Regions from separate parts of the Homo sapiens genome. Here region 1 is linked to region 2. The links come from fine-mapping of genetic effects on gene expression. A gene starts in region 2. The other region holds a variant in brackets. All regions are shown on one strand. Distances are from middle to middle. Region 1 holds the start of LOC124901182 (a long non-coding RNA gene). Region 2 holds the start of LNCBRM (lncRNA SMARCA2 (BRM) associated).

Region 1 (12,688 bases), 50 kb before region 2:
AAGCAGTGTGTCCTGACATTAATATACCCTGAAGCAGTCTGTTCCAAATGAGGCAGCTCTGCAAGGCCCAGTGACCATCACAGAAAGTGCTGACACAGGATTTTCTTTAAAATTGGCCCAAGCAGTAATATAAGTCATTCCCAGAGGAGTTGGCTGTGTGGTTTACATTGGCTTCCATAGCATTCCTGTGATACCCAGGTTCTATTTCATCAGCAGTGGAGCTGTGGTGGCAAAATTCTAACAGATTGTCTTCTGAAAAAAAGCCTCTATTTTACTGCTTAAGAGAAATGCTTTGAAAAATTACAATGCATTTTTCACCAATCTCCTTTGAGTTCTATATTTTCACAACTTAGTACAAGTAATGCATAGCCAATATTAAATGCTTATGATGCCTTTTGTTGTTTCAGAATGCTACAAAGCTGCGCTGTAAACAGTTTGGAAACTATTATTGCAACTACTGCCTTATGTTAGGCAGAGAAGTTAAATGACTTGACAAGTTTACCCAGCCAGTTAGTAGAAGAGCTAGAATTAGCTGTCTGTCTTCTGTCTTCCAGTTCCTCTGATATTTTTAGTAGACTTTGCATATGGAATATTTAGTGTGACTGAATGTCCAGGTAGAGGTATCCAGGACTGGACTTTGGAAAGGAGGGAGGGTTTAGAGTTACCCAATCGAGATTTACATTGAGTGAAGAGTGGAATCCACGTTGGCAGGTCAGATTGCCAAAGAGAGAAAGATAAGAGTTATGAAGAATAGTAATCATATCATAATTCCAAATATACAACAAATAATGATTGAGCCACTGAAAAAAATTAATTCGATAACATAAGCTGAGGTGAAGCAGTACAGCATTTTAGAGTATAAAAGTGATTCTATCGGTTTCATATTTACTCAGCTCATTCAATCACCATCTATGTGGTGTCTACTAGCACCAAGTTATGTGCTAAGGATATAAAGATGAATAGAAACTTCTGATGTCAAGATAATCACCACCCACTGGGAAAGCAAATAAACAATAAATTATTAGGCCATAATAAAACTATATTTAAAGTGTTATAAGAGCACAGAAGATAGTACTCACCTCTGCCTAAGGTAAAGTTCTCATAAGCACAGGATTCCAAAGCAGAACAAAGCTGACAAAATTTTTAATGCAGCATGTAGCAGTAATTTGGTGAGCACCTCATCAAATGTTGTACAACAGATTAATTATTCCGAGCGGACTGGAATAATTCTCTTAAAGTGGCATAACAGTAGCATTAATGTCCTTCCTTTTTTCACTTCGTCACATTGTTTCGCTCTGCCTCTGTGCAGAAATGAAATTAGGGTCACCATGCCTTTGAAATATAGCCTCTGCTCTCACTAATGCTAGAGCTGTCAAAATGAGGAATAAGAACTATCACTCCCATGTCTGATTCCTAAATAACGATATTTTCTTTAAGACAGGAAAAAAACAGTTACACGTATTCCTAATCCATAGTCTAAAATACTATCTAGCATAAAGCTATATCAAATAAATAAAAAGATGTGTTTGAAGTTTCATCTAACATCTAGTCAACTGGCTTTTGTGAAGAGTATCTGGTTATCACCCTTCCTTCTAGCTACACCATACTTTATGCTACTATGTCCTTTTGGCTCTGTATCCAGGAAGAATACAGAGACCAGAAACAATAGGGTTCAATAAGAGGAGGAGTATAACCTAAGGGTCCATAGTGCAATGTTTGGAAATGTACCCTTGCCCTCTGGAACTTTAACATGAACCCTATCTCCATTCCATTTGTGCTCCTCTCTAAGTGCCTTCTCACCCTTAATGTCAGCAATCCTCAAACAACCCTGAGAAGCTGGTATTATTAGACTCACTTGTAGATATATAAACTAAGGTCTAATCTAATGTTAGACAGCAAATTAGTAACAAAACCAGGTCTGAAAGTCAGGAGTTTCTTTCTTACTAGCTCAGAAATCTGTCCTCTATATCAGCAGTTGGCAAACTTTGGCTATAGAAAGCCAGGTGAAAAATATTTTAGGCTTTGTGGGCCAAACCGTCTCTGTCTAGGACTGACAGATTTAGCAAAGACAAATGCAACACACCTAGTTACATTTGAACTTCAAATAAGCAACAAATTTTTTTTAGTGTACGTCCCATGCAATATTTTTGTTTATCTGAAATTCAAATTTAACTAGATTTCTTGTATTCTATCCGGCAACCCTATCTCTGTCACAATCACTCAACTCTGCCATTGTGCACAAAAGCAGCCACAGACAATACATAAATGAGCAAGTTTGACTGTATGCAAATAAAATGTTGACAAAAACAGACAGCAGGGCTTATTTGGCTGGTGGGGGGTCATGGTTTGCTAACATCTACTCCATGTCATTGGCTTTGTCTTTACTAAGAGTTGACCTGCATAAAGGAATAAAACATCAAACTTATGTTATCATTGTATTTGATTTATAGATCATTTAACAAGTATAAACTTTCAATGCCATATCTTTCACTGAAGGTACAACTCACTCAATTTATAATTATAATGGTAAAACACTTCAGAGTTCCTTGAGTGTCCTCATTTTGCACATTCTAGAATTGACACTCAGAGGCATGGGAAGACTTACTCAAGGTCACACACAACTTAGTTGCAAAAAAAAGTCCCCTGTTTGGAGATAGCCAGTCACTTAAGTGTTAAAGAATATTACTGTCACTGGATACTGCTTAGGGGATGGGTGTACCAAAATCTCAGAAATCACCATTAAATAACTCATTCATGTAACCAAACACGACCTGTTCCCCGAAAACCTACGGAAATTAAAAAAAGAAAGAAAGAAAAACCCCACTGAGATCTCTGTGACTATAATATGTTGCCTAGGCTTTATAGAACCATTATTCCTCATCCCCCAAAATTTCAAGCATAAAAAATAGGCACGTAAAAAATTAGGAGGTACGTTGTTCAGTTTCCTCCTCTCCGAAGTCAATTTTGGGTGTGCTGCCCTTCTGCTCAGTGTCCTCATGGCCTCTGCCCCCACTGCCTCCACTGTGAACGCCCACTCCCAGGGAGGATGCTTCACAGTGGTGCATAGGAGGTGTTGGAGTCCAAATATGGATAAAGTGTCCAATCACAAAATATTTTTTCAGCTAAGATCACAACTAAGGAGTCATTCTTTTGAGCAATTAAATTGGAATTTAACCTATTTCATCACTGTAAGAGCACATCAGACACAGAAGGCTGATTAAAGAATCAGAACATAAACAGCATCAGCTAGAGAAAATAGGTGTAATAAACAGCCACTATTCCACTATTTGGGGGAGCAACAATAAAGACTGCTCATAGACAGACTTTTCAAGGAAGTTTGTAGAAACAGGTTCCAAGATTTCTGGAAATAGTAATAGTGCCCCGAAACAACAAAGTCACTTCCCAGGACAAGCGTGTGTCAACAGCAGTGTGGGACACACAAAAGAAGACCAGAGGAATCTGGGGAAAGACCAATGAGAAGCAGAATAAAAGCAACTCTCACAGGTAATAGCAAGTCGTGAGTTTATTAACAAGGAGAAATTTGAGATTTTTATACAGAGACGCTGTTGTAAACCACAGTTAGTGCTATATCTGTATACCTGAGTTCTCTCAAGAGTAATGCATATGTGTATATGTTAATATATTCTCATTTAAGACATGTTAAGTCATTCTCAACTAACCCTTTCGATGCCTTCAGATGTCCCAAGTTAAAAGAGCTCATCCCGCTGCTGCTTTATAGAAAGGTGAACTGTGTGTGGATCCTACGTAACAATTACAGCCAAAATTATTGCTGCTCAGAAATGACAAAATCAGCAGTACCTTTACAAAATTTACAAACTTGATTAACATACAGAACTATATCTTTCCTTCAATGTATTTGATATTATAAACAACATGGCACTATAAATATGCTTAATATATTTTATGGATTAGAAGTGTCATTTTGCATTTGATTTTAATTTCCCTTTTTTCTTCCTGTGCAATAGCCTCATTTCATTTTGTCTTCCCAGCATCTAAGCACTCTTCATATTCAGAGAGAATTCCAAGATGGATGGCAGGCACTTTCCACTGCTGATGCCAAAGGGGAACTAACACTCTCTCCCCAACCCTTTAAAGGGGCGATTTCAGCCCACCCAAACAGATACTCCGAAGATTTTTAGTGTTAAGAATGAGACGCAAAGGTGCACGACCTGTCTTCCAGTGAATTCCACAGAGATGAGAGCCCAGTGCTGTGGAGCAAGTATGGGCAATAGACTCCAAAGGTAAGCTGAAGAGAGCCCAGCAACAGCGGTGTCAACAAAAGAGATTCTAACATACAGTATTCTATCTCAAGTTTTTGTCTTCTGTGGTTCAGGTCCAGCTTGGATTCTCCAAACTCCTCATCGATTCTTTAAGCCACCTTAAATCCTTCAATTAATATTGATTCTGCTTAATCAGGTATAGATAGATCCCATTTTTGTAACCCTAAACCTCAACTGTTAAGCCTGAGATCAAATAGTGGTGAGCAACATATAGCTTTAAGAAAAAAAAAAAGCTTCAAGTAATTAGTATGCGCACACACACACACACTTATGACAGATGATTATTACTCAATATTTCACCATTATAGTACTAACAGAATTGAGGTTAAAAAGAGCAGTTAATGCCTGATTCAAGGGTAGAACTCCTAGCAGGAATGACCACACTTTTTACAGGTAAATCCTCCCCTCAGATTTGCCACTCATTATTGAAACTATAATCCTTCTAGCAATTAATAAGAATTTGTTAATGTTTAACACTGTGTTAGGTATTCCATAAGATATGTATGACTGCAAAACAACTTGTAATCCAAATGGGAAAACAAGAAAAACACAAACCAAGTAATGATAAGTTGTAAAATAAGATGACCTATACTCAAGTTTTAATACAGACTATAGCTTTCAAAGAAGAGTTGTTTGAGAAGTCTTCATGGGGAAAGTGAGTCTAAGCTAGACTTTACGAAGATGTGTAGGCTTTAGGAAGGTGGAGAAAAAAGCAGAGATTAAGTTAAGAATCTATGGCAGGATTAGAAGGGGATCAGTAACAAAGGCATTATTTTCATTCTCTTTCGGTTGAACATCACTTCTGCCTCTTGTCCTGGCCCGTACAAGTGAGAGATGGCCATATGAAACATGAGAAAGGAGGTGGCATGCTTTCCTGGCTCTCTCCTCTCCTTTCAATCTCATACCCTGCCCTACTCACGTGTCTTCATGCCTACTTCTACCCAAGTCTTTCCCTCTAGGGGAGTGCCATACCATCTGTTTTTCTTTTTCCTTTTGCTTTTTTTCCCCCCAGAAAATCTGTATGAATATATTGTTGGTCAGTTGTCACATCAGACTTCAATGATCTGGCTCCTGCCCTTCTTTCTAAACTTGAGAGAGTTCTGTGACAGACATAAATCCTCATTGCATCTATTGGGCAGGTTTATATCTGGACCATTCATTTGTGGTGATGTTGTCTGAGGAAACCTACCTTTGTGTAAGGGTCTGTTATACAAGTTTCCACCTTTTGTGGATCCAGTATTGGCTTTCTATGACCCTTGTAGCCTTTTATAACTCAAGCTCTAGGTTATAAAAGTCTGGCTGA[T/C]AGCCCAGGGGAAATGCCAGTTTTAGGTTTTGCCAACTATCTCTGTTCGAGTTCATTCATTTCTTACAGTCTCAACTATATATATTTTGAACTTTTTTTTTTGTAGTTTTAAATGTTCTATACCGAAAGAATTTCTCAGTACATCTATAGCCATTTGGACAGGGGAAAGGCATATCTAAATACTTCCCTTTTTATTCTTTTTAATGTGTTTTCACTTTAAAGTATTTCAAACATAGAAAAATATATATGGAAAATATAACAGATCTGTGTGCCCAATGTTCAGATTTACTAGGTATAAATATTTTGTCACAATTCCTTCAGACTTTTTATACACACACAAATACATACTCCGCTCTCTCCTTCCTTCAGTCCTAGAGGTAACCATCATCTTGGGGTTAGTGTGTATAATTCCATGCTTGTTTTGGTGCCTTACCTAACATATATGCAATATATAATATTGCTGAGGTATCAAGTTTAAAACTTAATATATTGTGAGCACACAACTGATATTTTCAATCAATAGTATATTTTTGAGATTTGTCCAATTTAACACATGTAGATCTAGTACAGTCATTTAAATTGCTCTATTGCATTTTATTATATAACTAAATCATAATGTATGTATTTGTTTATGGATAGATATGGAGGCCAATCATACTATTATGAATGGCATTGCAATGAACATCCTCGTTCAACTCTTCTAGTGGACATGTCTGAGCCAGGCTCAGAGACACCTATATATATGAGGGGAATTTCCAGATGTGATGTGGAGTGTACATCTTGAACTTTACTGACAATTGCCAAATTGCATTCCTCAGTAGTTCTTGATCATTACACTCCTGTCCACAATGTGTAAGAGTTCCACTTTGCCGTAGTTTTCACCTACACATAGAGTCATCAGATGTTTGGGTTTTTTCCAATTCCATCAGTATAAAATAAATCTCATTGCTTTAATTTGCTTTTATGTTTACTAGTGAGGTCGCTCTTCAAATGTTAATTGGCTATTTCAGTTTATTCCTCTGTGAACTGCCCGTCTTGGGGATTTTCTTATTTTTCACTCGAGTTGACTATGTTTTCTACAATGACTTTAAAGTTTCTTTTCACATTCTGAAAACCAACTCTTAGTTATATGCTCTGCACATGTATTCTCCCATCTGAGGCTTGCATTTTGGCTTTGCAGTGTCTGTTTACTTGTGACGTCTACTCTCATTTAGAAGTTTATACAAATAGTCAAATTTATTAGTGTTTTCTTTTAGTTTGTTGTGACATCTTTAAAAAATCTATCCCTGTTCTGGTATCATCCAGAGATGCTTCAATATTTCTTCTAAAGTTTCACAGTTTGTGTTTCACACTTAGGTCTTTAAACCACCTGAAATTTGTTTTTGTGTGTGAGATGAGATGGAGACCTAATTGTATCCTTTTCCATCACTTTGGATAACTGTTTCAGCACTCTTGATTGAATAGTCCTTTTCTCCTCTGAAATGTAATGTCCTCCATTATATACCAAGTTTCCACATATATATGGGAATGTTTCTATGAGTGCTTCTGTTTTTTGTTTTTTTTTTGTTTTTGATTGGTTAGCTTGTTTGGTTATTTGTTCATTAGATCTTTTTTTCCCCTTTCCTGCACTAATACCATACAAGCTTCTTTGATGATGAAAGCACTATAAGAAGTCAATATAAGGCCCCACTTGTATTTTCTAATTTGTCTGTGCTATTCTCAGACTTTATACATTTCCCGTTTCCACGTTTCTGCATGTGCTCTTCCTTCTGCTTAGAATCCCTTTTCTATCATTCTCCATAATTCCAAATTTGACTCATTCTCTCAGGACAAAGGCCAGCTTCTCCAAAAAGCCTCCCCTGATTGACCTTAAGTTGAAGTGAGTCCTCTCTTTTCTAAACTACCCTGTAACTTAATTTGTATTTTGCTTTCACTTTTTTGTTTTTCAACTCTAGTATATAGCTCTTGGAGAGCAAGATTCATGTTTAACTAATCATCAACTCCTTGAAATTGCTACAGTGCCTCTATACAAAAGCTACTCTATAAATATTGATTTATGCTTCAATACTAAAAGTTTTCTGTAATTAAATTTTTATCATATAGTAATGCAGCAAAATCGTCAGGGTACTTTAACATTTGTAAACCCTTTTCTATTTGCATGTAGTGGGCATTTTCGCCTAACTCACCTTTCATTTCCTCTTTCTCCTTTTTAACTATATTTGGTTCAAGTATGTAACTAACCCCTAAACAGCTTGTGATGCCAAGGAAGCTGGCTCCATTCGCAGCTTCAAGAGAGAGACCTCAAATATTCCAAACCAACCAATGCACAGCTTTCTCTGATAACTGCTACTGGTCTAGGAGTGGGCATAAGACCAAGTTGACTCAATCAGACAGAACAGAAAGACTGTAATTTCATAGTGGAGAATGGTTTATCATAGTTTCATTCTCTTTTCCTCTCTCCCCCCTACACACTGCACATGAACAATGAAACATATAGCAATAGCAATAGTTATCTATTGCTGTATAACAAATCAGCCCAAAACTCAGCGGGCTGAAAAGAGCAATTATTTATCATCTCTTAGAGTGTCTGTGAGTCAAGAATTCAGCAGAGCATAGGAGGGATGCCTTGCCTCTTCTCTACAATATCTGAGACCTCAACTGGGAGACTCCAAGGCTGGGAGTTGGACTTAGTAGAAAGCTTATTCACTCTGGTGGTTGATGCTGGCTATCAACTAAAACTTACTGAAGCTGTTGGTTTGAACACCTACATGTAGCCTCTCCACGCAGCCTGGGTTTTCCCCAGGTGGCTGGGTTCCAAAGGCCAGCATCCCCCCAAAAAGTCATCTTACATCATTGATGAGACAGGCCAAAAACCAAGTGGACTCAGAAAAGCAGAACAGAATGATGGTGTTAACGTGGTCTTGATCACACAGTTAACCTGTGAATCAACCAACATTAATGGCTATCCGTACTGCTGCACTTTCTATATGGGACAATACATTTAAAATAATTTGAGTTGGACTTTCTATTACCTGTGTTCAAAACCATCTTAATTAATGTACTGCATTTCAACTATCAATAACAGGCTAATAGAAGAAACTATTAGGAATGGGGGACCATAAATCATACCACCACATATTCTGCAAGAAAGCAGCTGCATCCTGCATTCAAATGTCTGAGGGCTATCGATTCTGTATATGCCATCTCGTCTTTTTTTCATCTTATTTTTAGTGATATATACCTATACAGTACAGTTAAATTTCCACTGCAATAAGCAAAATTCTAGTTAAAAGTTCTTATGATGCTATCAGGAGCTTCATATCCAGAAACAATTAAGTCCTATTGTGCCCTGAAGCCTGGTAACTTTGTAATTTTGTTGATGATATTCCTTCTGGATACTGAATCTATGCATTATTCAGTTAAACTGATTAGAGAAAAAGCACTACATTGTCCCTATTTTGATTATCTATACTACTATTTTAATTTTCAATCCAGGTCATTATTAAGTAGCTAGAAACAAATTGTAATGCTAAGAATTTGTATCATTATTTGCAGTGTTCATGTATTTTCAAGGATGCAGAATTTGTTCAATCTGGTTTCATCCTAAAATTTTATATATCTAGCTTTAGAACTAAGTAATAATTTGGGGGGGGGAATGAGGTGTTTTCTATAAGTTGAAATGAGCACAGAGCTAAAATATTAATATTTTTGTTACATGATGCTCATATACATTTGAAATGGCTTTTCTTTTTAAAAGGCAATTTGTAGATGATTGGGACATTATATTCACAGATGATGCCACTCGATCCTTTTTTGAGTTTTTCAAGTTGTTTTACTGGAGACCTGTGAATCAGCATGCAGTGTATTGAAGATTATTCAAATTCAGAAACCAAATCTCTTGAGTTTAAAGAAACAAATGACAAAGCAAGCTGAAAATTCTTAAAATGACTCAAAGTGTCAGGATGAAAATCTTTTTCCTTCTCTCCATTTTTTATTATATCATAATAATTAATAACATGTTGTATTTTCCCTTTTTAAAACAGAGAAAATACACAATGCCAAATAATCAGGCTTATCTCTAATGAGCAACCAAATACAAAAACATAAGAAGCCAAATCAATCCCCTGGAAGAAGATGGAGCAGGAGAACTATCAAGAAACACCTTCAATTTCTTAGGACTCAATATAGGTGAACTGTAGGTGAAATGCCATTGAAATGCTCTGAATAAACCTGCAAAATGAACTGTACAACTAATCTCATCTGGGAAATATGAAACCTAGTGGTCCCAGTCATCTAGACATTGGGGTATATGATTCAAAAATAAATAAAAAGAAATGAGTAGATAATAAACATCCTTGAAATAAAAAAGAATGGAGTTTCAAAAGAAGCGGTTACAGAAGAAAAATGTTTTTTGGCAGCATGTTCTTCACAAAACAATCCAGAAAGAACAAAAGCTCCAATTATGAATTGAGGTTTGTTTTTTCTGCAGCAGCCTTTTTTCTCTCTTCAAAGCAGACCCTCTACCCGCACTTGTGTGGCTGTTGCTGAAGATGTTTTTATTGCATAGTGCAATAAATAGTTATATAATATGTTTATTTTTCCATTTCAGTGACTTCTCTCCTCTTTTTTTCTTGAAAATGTCTTTAAGTCATTTTGCTCTCCTTCTTTCTTTTTTCTCTGGAAAGAAAAAATATAACCAGAAAAAAAAAACATAAACATCCTGAATACAGTGCTTAATGCCTGGTAGAAATAAGGCAGAACAAAACAAAATATGTGACTGAAAAGTCAGACAACCTGACTGAGGGAATGCTAGTCTACTGAGCAATGCTATGAAGGAAAATAAAAAAAACAGCAGCCTTTGTGTTGATTGTTAAGAAAAGAGCTCCCAAAATAATAACTATGAATTTCTGGATAATTTTTAGAGTTGTCATCTGTTCTTTCTCTACTGATTGACATATCCACAAGCAGAATCTTTTGTTTTATAATTCTTTGTTTTCTCTCATATATTTTTCATGATGAACAGTTAAATAGCAAAAGAAAGGAGAAACAAAAGGTCTGTCACTAACAAGATGGTATTTTATACTGTAAAATCATTTTGAATTAGACTTAACAGCAAATCCTTAGGCTGACAAATTGTACTCATCTTAGGTACCTACCTTCTTCCCACTCTGTTACAGCCAGGGCCCCTTTTCTCCCACACATATATTTTATCTTCTGTTCTTTCTTGCCTGCAGGTCTTGGCTTATTCTATAGCCCAATCCAGAATGCTACTTCTCAAATCCCTGTTGAGATCTACCCTACAATGTTCCTTCGAATCTCAAATCTAAGCTTCTCTGCCTTAAGCAGGCTTCACCTACTAATTCTACTTCATAATGTAGATTCCTTTTCTTCTAAACAATATTATGTCTATGGCATACTAGACACAGTATCTGGACTAAAAAAATAGCTTTTATTATTATAACTTTGAATTTCTTCAGATGTTACTTTGGCAAATTTACTATCCATCCTAGAATATCATAAAGGTCACCTTCAAGTTAAATTCAAATTTCTCCTTATTTTTACAGTTCTTATCACTCTCTCCTAAGTAACACTTAATGAATTGAGTTATATATTTGGAGCTTCTTATAAATTTATTAAATCAATTCTATCAAGAAGATAGCCAAATAGTCAATTTATGTCCCAGTTCTATACTATTATAGGATATGTAACAATTACAAAAATGTGTCCAGTTGTGTTTACAGCTAAAGACTACATGGAACATAAGAAAGAAGTGAAATCAAATTTTCGAAGGATTTCTACCTACCCTACATCTCTGCAGTTGAATCAGTTGGATGTTTATTGCAGCTGCCTTCCTGTAGTGAATGATCTTTATAATTTGATTTTCCATCTAAATGAAAGAGCATCTCTACCTTCCATTGAATACAATTGTTTGCTTAAAGATCTAATGATTTCAGAAACAGATAGCTTTCATTCCTTTAATTCTCTTTGAATCTCAAAACCTTAAATAAGTTTTCTAAACTTGATTGTATAGTAGACAAGGTTATTTGGGGACAAATTAAGAAACATAGTCAGAGGCCCTTGTCTCTTTAAAATGCTTATAAAATATCTCCCTCCCAAACTCTCTTTTCCTGGAGAAAGGTGAACAACCTCTTGACTGGCTTCCTATTATTTTGATGTTGATAAAGAAACCATGCCTTCCCAGGCATAACAAAATAGGTCTGACAAATTTCTAGACTCATCAGCAAATGGCAAGGATGATAAATGAGATTAGAGTTGTCTGTGAAGCTGTTCTATCTTGGGTGTCTTGCTCTAAGTTTGGAAATGGTATGGTTCGTTTATTAACAAAGTGATTACTAGAAGCCTGAAATATGAATCTACCCTGTTAGACCTTCACCTAGGGTGAGAATTGTGTCTTCTTATACATTCATTCCCATCCATCTGCTCTGTTCTCTCAGTTCGTATCTTGACAGATGGCTGTAACTTACATTACAGATAACTTTTCATCAGATACCATCTAAGCTCCCATCTTACGCTCAACATATTTTTAAGTTAATGCTCTTCCCCTAATCTACATAAATAAACTAGTGTTTTCTCTTTCTCTTTCTTTCTCTCCTGCCCCCATTTCCTCCACACATACAATCTGATTTATACAAATAACTTCCTACTTATCTATAATTTCTATATCTATACCTATATCAAATATATTTACTCATAAAACATTTCCACAGAATTCTGAGCTCAAATTATTTCAAATAGCTGTGGATAATCAGGAGCAGACTCCAATAAATTGAGGCATGTCCCAAAATTTCTCTCTATCAAATTCCTGAAAAATCTCTAAAGTAAAGCATAAATATAATCCTACAGAAGTAATCTGACAGCACATTTTAACCTTCTACTTACCATTTACAACCCATGCAGGAGAACACTGCAGTATTCCTCTCTGATGGTCTGATTTCATAGAATCACAGAATCTTAGCACTTAGGAGAGACTCTGAGTATACTCCACCTTTCCCATATAAGAAAAAGACTATAATTCAAGTCAAATGACTTCTCAGGGTCAAAGAGCTGGTTAGTAACAGATTTT
Region 2 (12,688 bases):
ACAAGAAAAAAGAACACAGGAGTTATCTCCATTTTACAACTGAAGAAACAGAGATCATAAGAAAATCTATCTTGCTCAAGGTCCCACAGAAAATGAGTGACTGGGACTCAAACTCAGATCTGAATTTCAAGACACTGCTTTTATCATCTTAGTTTAATAAATAAAAACTCTGTATACAAGGGGCAATCAATAGAGATACAGATGATATAGGTAAGTATAAATGTACATACACACAGAGTATTTACACAAATGTGATGAAATGTTAATACATAAAGAATCTGGGTGAAGGGATGTAAGGGTTCTTTGTACTATACCTGCTACTCTTTTAAGTTTGAAATTATTTCTAAAAGAATTATTTAATAAAAATTAGGCCTACCTTGGGGTACTCTCACTATAGTTCATTAGCTATTTTTTCATCTACGCCAATTGATAGGAGAAAATTGTTGTAATTGACATTTTCTTGTTAATAAACACTATGTTTTTCATAGTTTTCTTTGCCATTTGTATTTTTACTTTTAGTTAATTATGTGTTTGGGGCTTTTTTCACCTTTTGTAAGAGGTGGTATAGTGGATACTGTGGTGTCTCACCCAGATCTTCAGGACTCGAGCATTCTTCTTGCAGCTGCTGAGAATACTAGCTGCTGATGGTTCACAGCTGCATCCCTCACTGGGAATTTCCTCCCCTCGCAGGGAACTGTCCCACTCATGGTTACTTCCCCTCCAGGGGAGCAGCCCATGACTAATGAGTGGCTAAGTAGTAACATAAAGTCCCCCTGGGCTAAACGTTGGGGTGGGAAACTCTGAAATGGCATCCCAGCTCCCAGTACAATTGGGTAAGACCTCAGGTGCAACCACTTTGTGTATCAGCACTTCGCTCTGCCTAGTCCTGTCGTCCTCGCTTCTTCACAGGTGTATCTCCTGAGAGAGCTTCCAATAAACCTCTCCCTCTCAGAGCCTATGTATTAGTCTGTTCTCACACTGCTATAAAGAACTACCTGGGTAATTTATAAAGAAAAGAGGTTCAATTGACTCTCAGTTCCACAGGCTGTACAGGAAGGATGCCTGGGGAAACTTACAATCAGAGTGGAAGGTGAAGGAGAGGCTGACACATTCAACATGGCAGGAAGGAGGAAAACGGAGAGAAGGGGGAGGTGCTACGTACTTTAAAACAACCAGATCTCGTGAGAACACTATCACGGTAACAGCAAAGGGGAAGTCCGCCCCCGTGATTAAATCACCTCGCACCGGGCCCCTCCTCCAACACCAGGAGTTACAATTCAACACGAGAATTTGGTGGGGACACAGAGCCAAATCATATCAGCCTGTTTCCTGGGGAACCCACAGCAATTGGTACATCTTTTACTTATTGATGTGCAGTGCTAAGAGCTGCACTTATTATCATTAAAAAATGAAAGTCTTAAAACAAATTTAAGAAACTTCAAAATGTTCACTGTTAATCTTCTCACTGTTATCACGAGTATCTTTAATATGACTCGTGTCTAACTAACACTCACGCACAATACACAATGTGCTTTTCAAAGGCTTTTATCTGTGGTCCACTTGATCCTCATCATCTTAACCATGAAGGACATGAGCTCTGGAGCCCAGAGCCTGCCTGCATTCAGACTCAAATAATTGCTTACCAAATTACCTAAACTCTCTGGACTTCTATTGTCTCATTTATCAAGAGGGGATGATATTCGTTCCTAATCCATAAATTAAATGATGGGGTGGTGATTAATTGATTAACGATGATTCCTGCTATGTAATAAATACTTAGAACCTCACAACCATCTGATGAGATGGGCTGTGTTAACTGCCCAAGGCCATTGTACGTGCACAAGGTCACACTAACTCTTACCTAGGCTTCAGTTGACAAGTATAACATAAGAGATTATAAAATAGCTATCAGGAGTACAGAGGGTTGTAGCTTTTGTTCATGTCATGATTCACAGTTATACAACAGTATATAATTTCACTGAAATCTCATACTAACCAAGTTTTCTGCATGTTCTCAAATAAACAATTGTGAATATAATAATTGAAGGCATATTCATAATATATTAAATTTTCTATATATAAACTTGAACTAGATATAAATGGGCTTGGAATTATCTTGAATTATGTTTCAAGGCACCTATGACCCTATACTTAAATTCCTTCTATTATATTTTGGCTAATCACAGACCCTGAATATGTGGTAACATATTGATACTTTCAGTACTTCTGTGTTTCTTCTAGAAAAGAGTCAAATGTAGTGAAATAGTTGGCATTTGCTATAATTCTGTGAAGTAGAAAACTAAGAATAAGGTTTCTGCTACCAAATAGAATTACAGAGAGAACAAACTAAGTCTGAACAATGTATTATTTAAAAATTGTATGTTAAATTTTTTTATGACTAGTGCCTCTTCTAGTGTTCCAAAAATAATTTATACAGTCCATGCTCAGGCATTGCTTTATATCTGAAATTTATGGGAGCAGAATGGTAAATAACAATGTATCAATCTCACTAAATTTCAGCATTACAAATTTACTTGTTTGGAGTTTTAAAAGAACGGTGTTTCCCGCATTTGTTTACTGGGAAATATTCATTCATTTGGAATGCCTCATAGCCTGAGAAACTTTCACTCACTGAACCCCCCAAGCTAGATTTGATCTTGAAAATGCCTATTTATTTCATTTCACCAACAAAGTGAAGCATTTCAAATGCTCATTTAAAGTTAGAATTAATTCATTAAAAGTAAGGTAACTAAATACCACTCATCACTGTGCAAAATTACTCAATCTCTTGAGCAAGTTACTTCCCCTCTCTGTGCGCCATTTTTCTGATCTGTAATATGGAGATATTATTATCTACTTCATGGAGTTGTTGTGAGGATCGAATAACTTAATAAATGTAAAGCTGCCAGAACAGTGCCTGGAACATAGGAAACACTATATATGTGTTAGCCATTATAATTGTATTACCATCATCATCATCACTATAATTAAATAAATCTTCAGTCCATGTACTTTAAAAGGTGAAATCATTTCATTTATTTACAATATATTATGATTCAGTCTTTTCTTCTAATTCACATTGGTTTTTCTCCCCCAATTTACAGGTTAGTAAGGTTTGAATATTATACTTACTTTTTGCCCTGTTATAACATGACAGGCACTCACTATGAGACTTTCAAGGCCAAAGTCTCATAATTTTTTTCTGTACAAGAGAAAAGAAAATATATAATTCTATTTTATTCTTAATTAGAAACATTTGTTCTATTCTTAATTGAAGAATTGTAAGACACCAAAGCTGGAGTGATTTGAAAACAGAATTCATCATACATCTTTCCAAATTCCTAGAGGGCAAACTCATGGCAAAATGCTGGTTATAATGAGACCAAACTTTAGGATAATTACCAGAGCTAATCAGGGGTTATTAGTTTGTGAAAAAAAAAAACCTGTTTTCTAAATACAAAATGCATAGTTAAGTCTTTTAACTTAGTCCATGCAAAGGAAACAAATAAACATAAATGATGCAAAAGTCAACCTAGCTTAAAAATCAATATTCTTCCCTTATTTGGCAATAGCGATTTAAACTTACCAATGTGGAAGAGCAAGGACTCAGATCCTCAGCACAAACTTGTAACTGACTGGTAAAAAAACATTCTAGAAAAGATTGGAGTGGAAAAAGAGCTGGACCATGACAATTAGAAGCAATTTATAACTGTACCAACCTGTGCCCTGGCACAAGGTGTAGGTTCAGATAGCCTCTGAAGCAGTGATTTGCTCTGCGAAGGTTGAAGGAGATCAAAGAACACAGTGTTGGTAGCTGAGACATAAAAGTCATCAGCCCTGCTTCTGTCTGCTGGAACATGGAGCGAAAATGGACCAGATCCAGTGTCCATTTCACAAAATGGTGAAGCCCACCAAAGACACCTTCAGCTTTCCTTTTCATATCTTCTCAACCTCAGTGGTGTATTTACTACTTTCCTGTCAGTGGCCCAGCACATTTTTACTTCTAAAACTCCTCTTCCTCACAAAATGAGGATGGACTCATGTCATCGTTTGTACTTCGAAGTTCGTTCACATCTCACTTATTTATATGTGGAATCTAGAAAGCCAAACTCACTGAAGCAGAGAGTAGAATGGTGGCTACCAGGGCTGGGGGAGTCAAGGAGGTTTGGGGAGATGTTGGTCAAACCATATGAAATTTCAGTTACACAGAAGGAATAAGTTCAGAAGATGTATTGCACATCATGGTGACTTAGTTAATAACCATGAATTATATGCTTGAAAATTGCATAGAGAGTAGATTTTAAGTGTTCTCACCACAAATAACTAAGTATATAACGTAATGAATATTTTAATTATCTTGATTTAGCCATTCTACAATGTAGACATATTTCAAAACATGTTTAACTATTAGTTAATTAATTAAAAATAACAGCCAGCCCATAAAAAACTCCAAACAAGCTTCACTCCATACAACAAAGAGGATGTTTGATTGATTCATTCTGTTCTTTCTTCCTAGCTTTTAGATTTCATAAATCTTTTTGCCAAATAGTTCTAAACCTTTGGAGTTCTTTCCAGTGATTTATCTTTCATAGATGACAGCTTCACTCTGCTTCCATATTTTTAAAAAGAAACACAAGATATAGCAGATGTTTCTCCTTAAAGTCATAAAAATTTCTGAGCCTTGTTCTATTCTCTAATCTTATTTTATTAAAGAAATCATAGAAAATTTTTTTAATTTACAGAGTGAATAGCTACTCAAAATAATTTACCATTAATTTTATATGAACTTGAATCCATCTTAGGTTTATCAAGATTGAGTAGTTAGATAACTTATTAGAGGAGTCCTATAGTACATAGTGTAAATATGGTGCTTTCTAAAAAAGATAATATTCCCAGAAAATGCAGGAAGCTATTTAAATAAAATATCTCCATGATTTTAAAGATGAGACAATGATTCTTTCCTATACAATTTCTTTGCGGAGCAAGATGCTGTATTTGTTCCATATCTTTTAAGAGAAAAGCATTGTGTTGGAACAAAAGAACACAGGGAGACTACTGAAATTAATACATCATGGTCTTTTCTCTTAAAGGGCCTGGGATCTGGTAAGTGAGAAAATATTTGCATACCTTTTCAGGAATATCTCTACTATATAAAGCATGTCATTTCTGCATTATAAACAAACCACAAAACTGGTTCTATCATCTACACAATCATAACCAATATCAGTAATATATACTTCTAGTTACAAAGTACTTTTATACTCACTTTTTTTCTTATGACAAACTTATGAAGTGGAAATTATTAATTCTCATTTACACATGAGGAAATTGAAGGTCAGAGAATCCACAGCAGAGGGCCCATATTCCTTCTGTTTTCCAAATACATGCTATTTATCATGCAGCCACTGCTGGAGGATTGGTCCTTCCATACAGAGCCTTCACTGGGGGTATTCTCTAGTCCTGATCAGAAAAGTTGGGCAGCGTCTGCCCACCACCTGTCAGGACCTGGCTTCAGGTCAGCCAGCATATCGGGGACCACCCCACTGTGGGATGCTGCCAACTGCATCGGTCTGGCAACCACGTTTGTTTACCAGCACTTGTTGGCAAGGCCACGGCTTTTGAAGCTGCCTCTCATTGTGTCTTTAACACTTCTGCTCTGACCACCCAGCCTCAGCAAAGCAAGACCCACGTCTGCCCACATCAATTCATTCTGTAACTGCTTAGGGAAGATTTTGCCTCCTCCCTCCTCTGTGTGCTTCCTGACTCAACAGTGACATCAAAGTCCAGGGGACCCTTTGTGAGAGCCTCAGTGCTAGTGATTCCACGACCAAAATACTGGTAAGAGCATGCAAAACAGAGGTTCTTGGGCATTCATCCCTCACAATTCCCGATGCCACCAAATCCCCACCCCCCGCATACACACACATACGCTCCTTTTGCCTCAATTGGAGACATGGTAATACCATCCATTCGTTTATCCATTTTGAGTAGGCAATTTATAGCTCCGAAGCTCACAATAGTTGTTTTCTAAGACATTTAACAAACACTTATATGGCACCTACTGTTTGCCACACACTGTTCTAGGCACTGAACAAAACAATAACTCATTTCATCCTCATAACCACACATGAATTGCATTGTCTCCATTTCACAGGCAGAAAGACTGATACAGAAAGTACTTTGCCCAAGATCACTTGCTAGGGAAGCCAGGTTTTGAACTCAGAAAGGTAATTCCAGTATCCATCTCTCAACCACTACACTCTGCAACCTTTTTCTTTTTTTTCTTTTTTTTTTTTTGAGACGGAGTCTCCCTCTGTCGCCCAGGCTGGAGTGCAGTGGCGCGAACTCGGCTCACTGCAAGCTCCGCCTCCCGGGTTCAGGCCATTCTCCCGTCTCAGCCTCCTGAGTAACTGGGACTACAGGCGCCCGCCACCACACTCGGCCAATTTTTGTATTTTTAGTAGAGATGGGGTTTCACCTTGTTAGCCAAGATGGTCTCGATCTCCTGACCTCGTGATCCGCCCGCCTCAGCCTCCCAAAGTGCTGGGATTACAGGCGTGAGCCACCGCGCCCGGCCCACTCTGCAACCTTTTGGTTGGGGCACATTAACAGGAAATTACAAAAACGGATGGAGGAAAAATGGATAATGGTGTAGGATGAATGAAGAGACATATGCCATCAGGCTGAGAACATAAAAAAGTGATCTTCATAGATTGATAAGGTACCAGGGCAGATTCTCTACTGACAAATCAAACACTACTTGAAAATTTCAAGCTTCCCAATTTTCTCAAAATGCTTTTACCTCCTCCCTTCCCATACACCGAAAGTAACAAATTTGGAAGCATCTCACCAGTCATTTTCCTTCCAGCTCACAAGGAAGTGCTTATGTATAACATTTTCTGCCTCCTAATTGTCAAGATGCAGAGATTTTACAGATTCACAAACAGAGACAATGCTTTTATAATTTATAAATATTTGTTTTTCAAGCTATAGACACTTCCCTTGAGCTCTTAAAAAAGAAAATCTCAGTAGTTTTACATCTCAAATATCTATGAAATGGTTATTTAGGTGAGGTTTGGGGAGGTTGGGTGTGGGGGTTGTGTTTTATTTTTGCTTAATTTGGTATTCAAATCATGTGGTTATGCATTGAAAATTAGCTTGATCCACACTCATCTGTGGGCCTTTTGTGTGACAGCATTCCACACATCTCCCTGTTTTCCTAATTCTAGTTTATTTTATGATGACTTGGAGAAAATGGCAATGTTATCGCTGAGGAATTTATGTTATAATATTGGTCTTTCTCTGGCCTGAAAAAGACTAATTGTTCCCCATTCTGTGTTGCCACAGCTCCCTCCCTCACAAAGCTATTATTGAACTGTATTTAACTATCTGGGTGGGCTTCTGGTAATAATTAGATTGCCATCTCCATTAAATCCCAGGGAGAGCAGACAGTGAGGGTAGCAACAGCAAGACTTGTAGTAACATTTAACCATCAAAAAAGAGGATGACTTGAAGGCCTCTTTTGTGTTCTCCCTCTGTTCTTCTGGCTTTAAAGCTATAAACATCTGATGATAAAGCATCCTTTAAAAATTCTGAATAATTTATTGGATGCTTGCTTACAGAGGATCCTATTATTTTTTGACTCTTCATTTCTACAATTAGGCAGTGGCTTTGGAAACACATTAAAGACTCCATCAAATAATAATTGTAATCCAAATCCCAATAAGAACCAGATTTTGAATATTGAGCCCTGAACCTCAGCTTTTGATAAAAAGAAGAGAAGAAAGAGAGAGGGTGGGGAGCAGCAGTGAGAAAGAGAATAGTATGAAAGTAGCATGGATCACTGGAAAAAGAATGTCTTGCTTTCAGAAATGGATAGTAATTCTACCTCTCTAAGTGCTTTATTGGGATCCAAGAAAAGTGAAAACATCCTTGAGCTCTTGCCTCCTATATCCAAAACTCAGATTAAATGCATCAGTTAGAACTAGGCTGGCTGCATTATTTTAAAAAAAAAAGAGAGAGAGAATAACAACAGTTAGTTAAATACATGGTAGAAACCTGAGGCTGGCAGTTGAGGGCTGAGATGATGAATCCACAGGCAGAGACCCAGGCTTCCACTCTGTGGCCCTGCTCCATTCTTAGTTTGCCAACTCATGGTTTAAGATGGCTCCTTGAGCACCAGCCATCATGTCTACATGCTGAAAAACTGAGAAAAGAAAGGAATAAAGAAATAATGTGCTCTCTCCATTGAAAGACACTTTGGAAGTCACAGCACACCTATGTCCAAATTGCAATTCTTTGTCTAAACTCAGTCATGTAGCCAAATCTTCATTATTTAAGAGAAGGTAGTCTTTTGCCAGGTAGCAAAGTGCCCGGCATAGGAGAAAGCAGAGAATGCATTTGGGAAGGCAATTGGCAATCTCTGCCCTAAAGAAATACAGTATTCCCTTCCAGGATATTTAAATGTGTCAATGAGATACTAATGTACTTTCTCCAAGCGTGGCATTCAGATGGCACTGCATAGTAGTGAACTGTTTTCTCCCTGCAATGTAGCCTTGCCCATCCTGTACCATTGTTGATATTGCCCACCAGCATTAAAAATGTAGAGAGTTTGAAAACTGACCCCCAAATCTGACAATGTCTTTCAGGTTTTTAGTAGGGCTGTCTACATTGTCTGCATTATTTAGAAGTGTGAAATTAGAAGACACTTTCTGGCAAAAAGCTTTCCAAAACATCAAAATGTAATAATAAATACTAGAAGTAACTGGTAATGAAAACTAACAAAAGACAGAATTCACTTCTGAAACTGTTAGAGTGATGATTGGGGAGGGAATGGAGAGTTGGAATCATTCTGACAAGAGAGAGCTGTAAGGACAAAAAGCACTTAGAGGCCATATGGTATATACCAGTACCACCAGCACTATGCTAACCCTTTCATAGACTGTCTCGTTTAGTTATCACAAGACCCCTATGAGATAGATACCCTTTTTTTATTATTTACAAATAAGGAAATTGAGGTTCGGAAAAATTTAGAGGCTTGTTCGAGGTCAGACATGTAGTAAATGGCAGAAATAAAATGAAAAATGACTTAGAAAGGATTCCCCCCCAAAAAAAAATACTAAATACTAAAAAATACTTAAAAAAATACTAAATACTAATACATAGTAAAATGGCCAAGAGGAAAAAGCTCTTGTACAGAGACAGGATGCCTTGTGAGAAGCAGGGACCTACACTGAAGAGGCACAGCCAGGCTGAGGTGACCTAGCTGGAAGGGAGCCAAGAGTCACACCTGGGACTTGCACTCTGTCCTTCTGCCAGTCTCCTGCAGATGCCCCCATTGGCTTAACCCAACCAGAAGTCCAAGGGCAAGGGTGTTCTTGATATAGTTAATATAGTCTACACAGGTCAGCCTCCTAGAGAAGAAAGCAGGGTTGAAAAGGGAGGAATGAATCTAGAGGAGCAAACAAAATACACAGCACAGCAGGTTTATCACCACTGTCCTCTCCTCACTGCATTCCAGGGCATCGATGGGCAAGGGATAAAGCTTTGCTCGTTTTACCATCAAAACTTCCCCCTGCCACACCAATTCCCCACTCACACCTGCAGAGAACAGTCAGGATACAGGATGTGATTTGCTGCCCTCTTACTGCCAGCAGGTGAGAAGTTAGAACTTTGGAAACTGCATTTTAAGGTTTCCAAAACCTGATCTGAACTATGTAAGGGAGAGACTATCCTATTTTAACTTATCTTGGGGGGTGGAAATTACAGAGCTCCTCCACATGATTTCTTCCATGGTTTGAAGACAATCACAATCAAGACCTTTCTCCTGTACAAATCATCTATTCACCAAAGAATCTTCTACTTAAGTCTCTTGATTCTCTTAAGCTAAAGAAAACAGCAAGCCAGCAACATTCTTCAAGAGACTGTCTTCTGTTTTGAAGACATGATTCTACCATGCTCTTTCACCCTCAGTGAGAAGGTCGCTCATCCATCCTCTATGAGTGATTCGTTTCCCCTTTTTCTGCTTTTTGCACGCTAACCATGGCCTTATTTTACCCTCCTGAAATGCCTGCTTTTTCTAGTCTTTCCTAGCCTAACACTTACTTCCCACCTACTCACTGCTTCAAGAAAGCCAGCTAAGACTAATACATTCCCCAAGGGAGTTTTGGTTTACTTAAATTTCCATAGCAACTATGCTCGTCAGCAAAACACTGCGATCCTCAGTATCTATTAGTACTGCCTGAAATTCCCTTGTACTGTTTTGTAGAAAGTTAATACAGAGAGACTGGGCCCTCTCTTTTTCATGAGTATGTTCTCTTTTGTGGTATGAACTATGATTGTTAACCCATCCCCTATTGGTGGACACTTAGATTCCTTCACGTTTTATCATTGTAAACAATCTATACTGAACATAATTATAAACATTTCTCAATGCTCATCCAGGAGTATTCTGTAGGACAGATATTCAGGATATTTGATTAGTCAAAGGGTTTACACATTGTTATTTTAATAAATACTACAAAATTCCTTTTTAAAAGCCATTTGCCTTCCTACCTAGTGTATGAGAGTATGCATTCCTTCACACCCCTTCCCAACCTGCACTGACACAATGGATACTACTAATAATTAAATGTTTTTCCAATGTGATAGGCAAAAAAAATAGACTCTACATATTTCAATTCAGATTTCTATGATTACCAGTAGGATTAAACATCTTTTCATTTATTTTTAGAGCATTTGTTTTTCTCCATTAGCCTTTTCCCATTTTCTTATTAGAATGCCTTTTTCCCATTGACTTGTAGATATTCTCCATAAAATACAGATTAAAGCCTTTATTTGTGGTATATATTACAACTATTTTCTTCTCGTCTTATGCTTGGCATTCAAGAATGGTTTCACTGTGGATATAAATTTTTAATTTGTATGTGGTAAGGTATATAAATCTTATTTATTCTCCTCATGATTATAAAAATATGAAAACTTATAAAAGCATAACATCCCCTCCTGCCTTTCCCTCTCAGCTTTTAGGACTTTGCTTTGACCACACTGCTATGAACTTTCTCACCCATTTGTGTTGAGCATTTGATGTATTCTCTTAATCTTAAAGCTCAGTTCTTCAGCTTTGGAGATTTTTCTTGAAGTATTTAAAAATATCCTCTTCTCTACTTTCTTTATTCATACTTTCTGAAATATCTTGAACTCTTGACTCAGTTCTCTATATTTCTTTTATTTTCTCTTCAATCTATCCTTTGGTCTTCTTGCTATGTACTTGCAAGGAAATTTTTTCAATTTTATCTTCTAAATCTTCTACTGTGTTTGAAATTTGTTTTCATATTTTTAATTTCCAAAAGACTTTATTTTTGTCTTTTAAATGTCTTACGTTTATAGCTTCCTGTCTTTTATTTCATAAATGAAATATCTTCTTTTTCCAAGGACATTAATGAAAATAGTGCGTTCTGTTTGGTTTCTTTTAAGTTTCCATTTTCCTGCATAGTCTCTATTTTTTTCAAGTTGCTTTTTTTAGTTTGTTTATTTGTTTGTTTCCTGGTCTCTGGCTTTCATGTTAGAGGCTTTCCTTAAATGTCTAGTGATTCTTATCATTCATTTACAATTAAGAGTGAGGGGCTCCAAAGCTGGGTGTGTGTTCTGTGCATGGAGCTTCACAGTGAGGGGAACTCTGGTTGTACATCCTGCTGGGGAAGGCTCAGTGTCAATCTGTTTTAGGTCTTCTCTAGGCTGCTCGTGCTATGCTAGGAGGGCTTAATTCTAGCTAGGAATTGTGGCAGCAAATGGGGAAATCTGTGAAGATTGCTGGTCTTCACAGTCAGGCAGTAGACTTGCACTTTACCACTTACTTTAATGTGGTACCCCACCCTCAAATATGCCTGTGTGCCCCAGTCCAGACCCTCTGTTTATATACTTCAGACAATAAATTTTCAGCCACTTTCAGGAGGGGATGAGACAAGCTGCAGCTACATGGATTGGATTAGGATTTAAAAGCCTACTACTTATAAATAGGGTTTCAACCCACCACACAGGGCTAGGCCCTACCTCCACCTCCCACTTCCACGGGCACCTCATGCTGCCAATTCCTGTGATGTGGGGATTCCATAGTATATATCGGTTTGCTTCTTCACTTTCCCCAAGGCCAATTTAAAATTCAGCTCTCGGTGTTTTGCTAGGTCAGCAGCCCTTCATTCTTCCACTTTCCAGCTCCCAGAACACTGTTGCTGTTTTCTCCTTTCCAAGTCTCTTTACTTTGTGAATGATAGCCTTAAAAAATCTTTTTCCTGTAATTATAACAAACATTTGAAATGGAGTGGATTCACTATGTTTGATTTGCCAACTTTAACTAGAAGATTCTCAGTATTAAAATTTAACATATAGATTTAAATACGTTTGCCTATCAATCTCCAATGCTAATAAGTATCTGTATCCCATCTTCGCACACACAATTACATACACACATAAAGAAAAAGACAAGAATATTAGCACATTTTAAAATCCCTTCTGCACTTCCCTTTTTCTCCTATGTTAAAATCATCTGGAATCAAATTCTAGGTTTATCATTGTCTTAGACTGTCTGTGTTGCTGTAAAGGAATATGTGAGACTGGGTAATTTATAAAGAAAAGAGGCTTACTTGGTTCACAGGTCTTCAAGCTGTACAAGAAGTATGGTGTCAGCACC

What was found. PIP is the estimated chance that this variant, and not a neighbour inherited with it, causes the effect.
Region 1: its variant is fine-mapped to the expression of LNCBRM in subcutaneous fat (TwinsUK, PIP 0.95).

What each region holds. Positions count from the first base shown.
Region 1 is chr5:57,614,318-57,627,005 of GRCh38, reverse strand. It overlaps LNCBRM (lncRNA SMARCA2 (BRM) associated), which reads right to left. Exons shown (of 6, transcript NR_120607.1): 5 at 12,505-12,688; 6 at 9,576-10,281. LOC124901182 (a long non-coding RNA gene) reads left to right here and starts at 4,358. Exons shown (of 2, transcript XR_007059133.1): 1 at 4,358-4,437. The variant T/C (reference allele first, on the strand shown) is at 5,605.
Region 2 is chr5:57,564,545-57,577,232 of GRCh38, reverse strand. LNCBRM (lncRNA SMARCA2 (BRM) associated) reads right to left here and starts at 6,891. Exons shown (of 6, transcript NR_120607.1): 1 at 6,851-6,891; 2 at 3,133-3,202.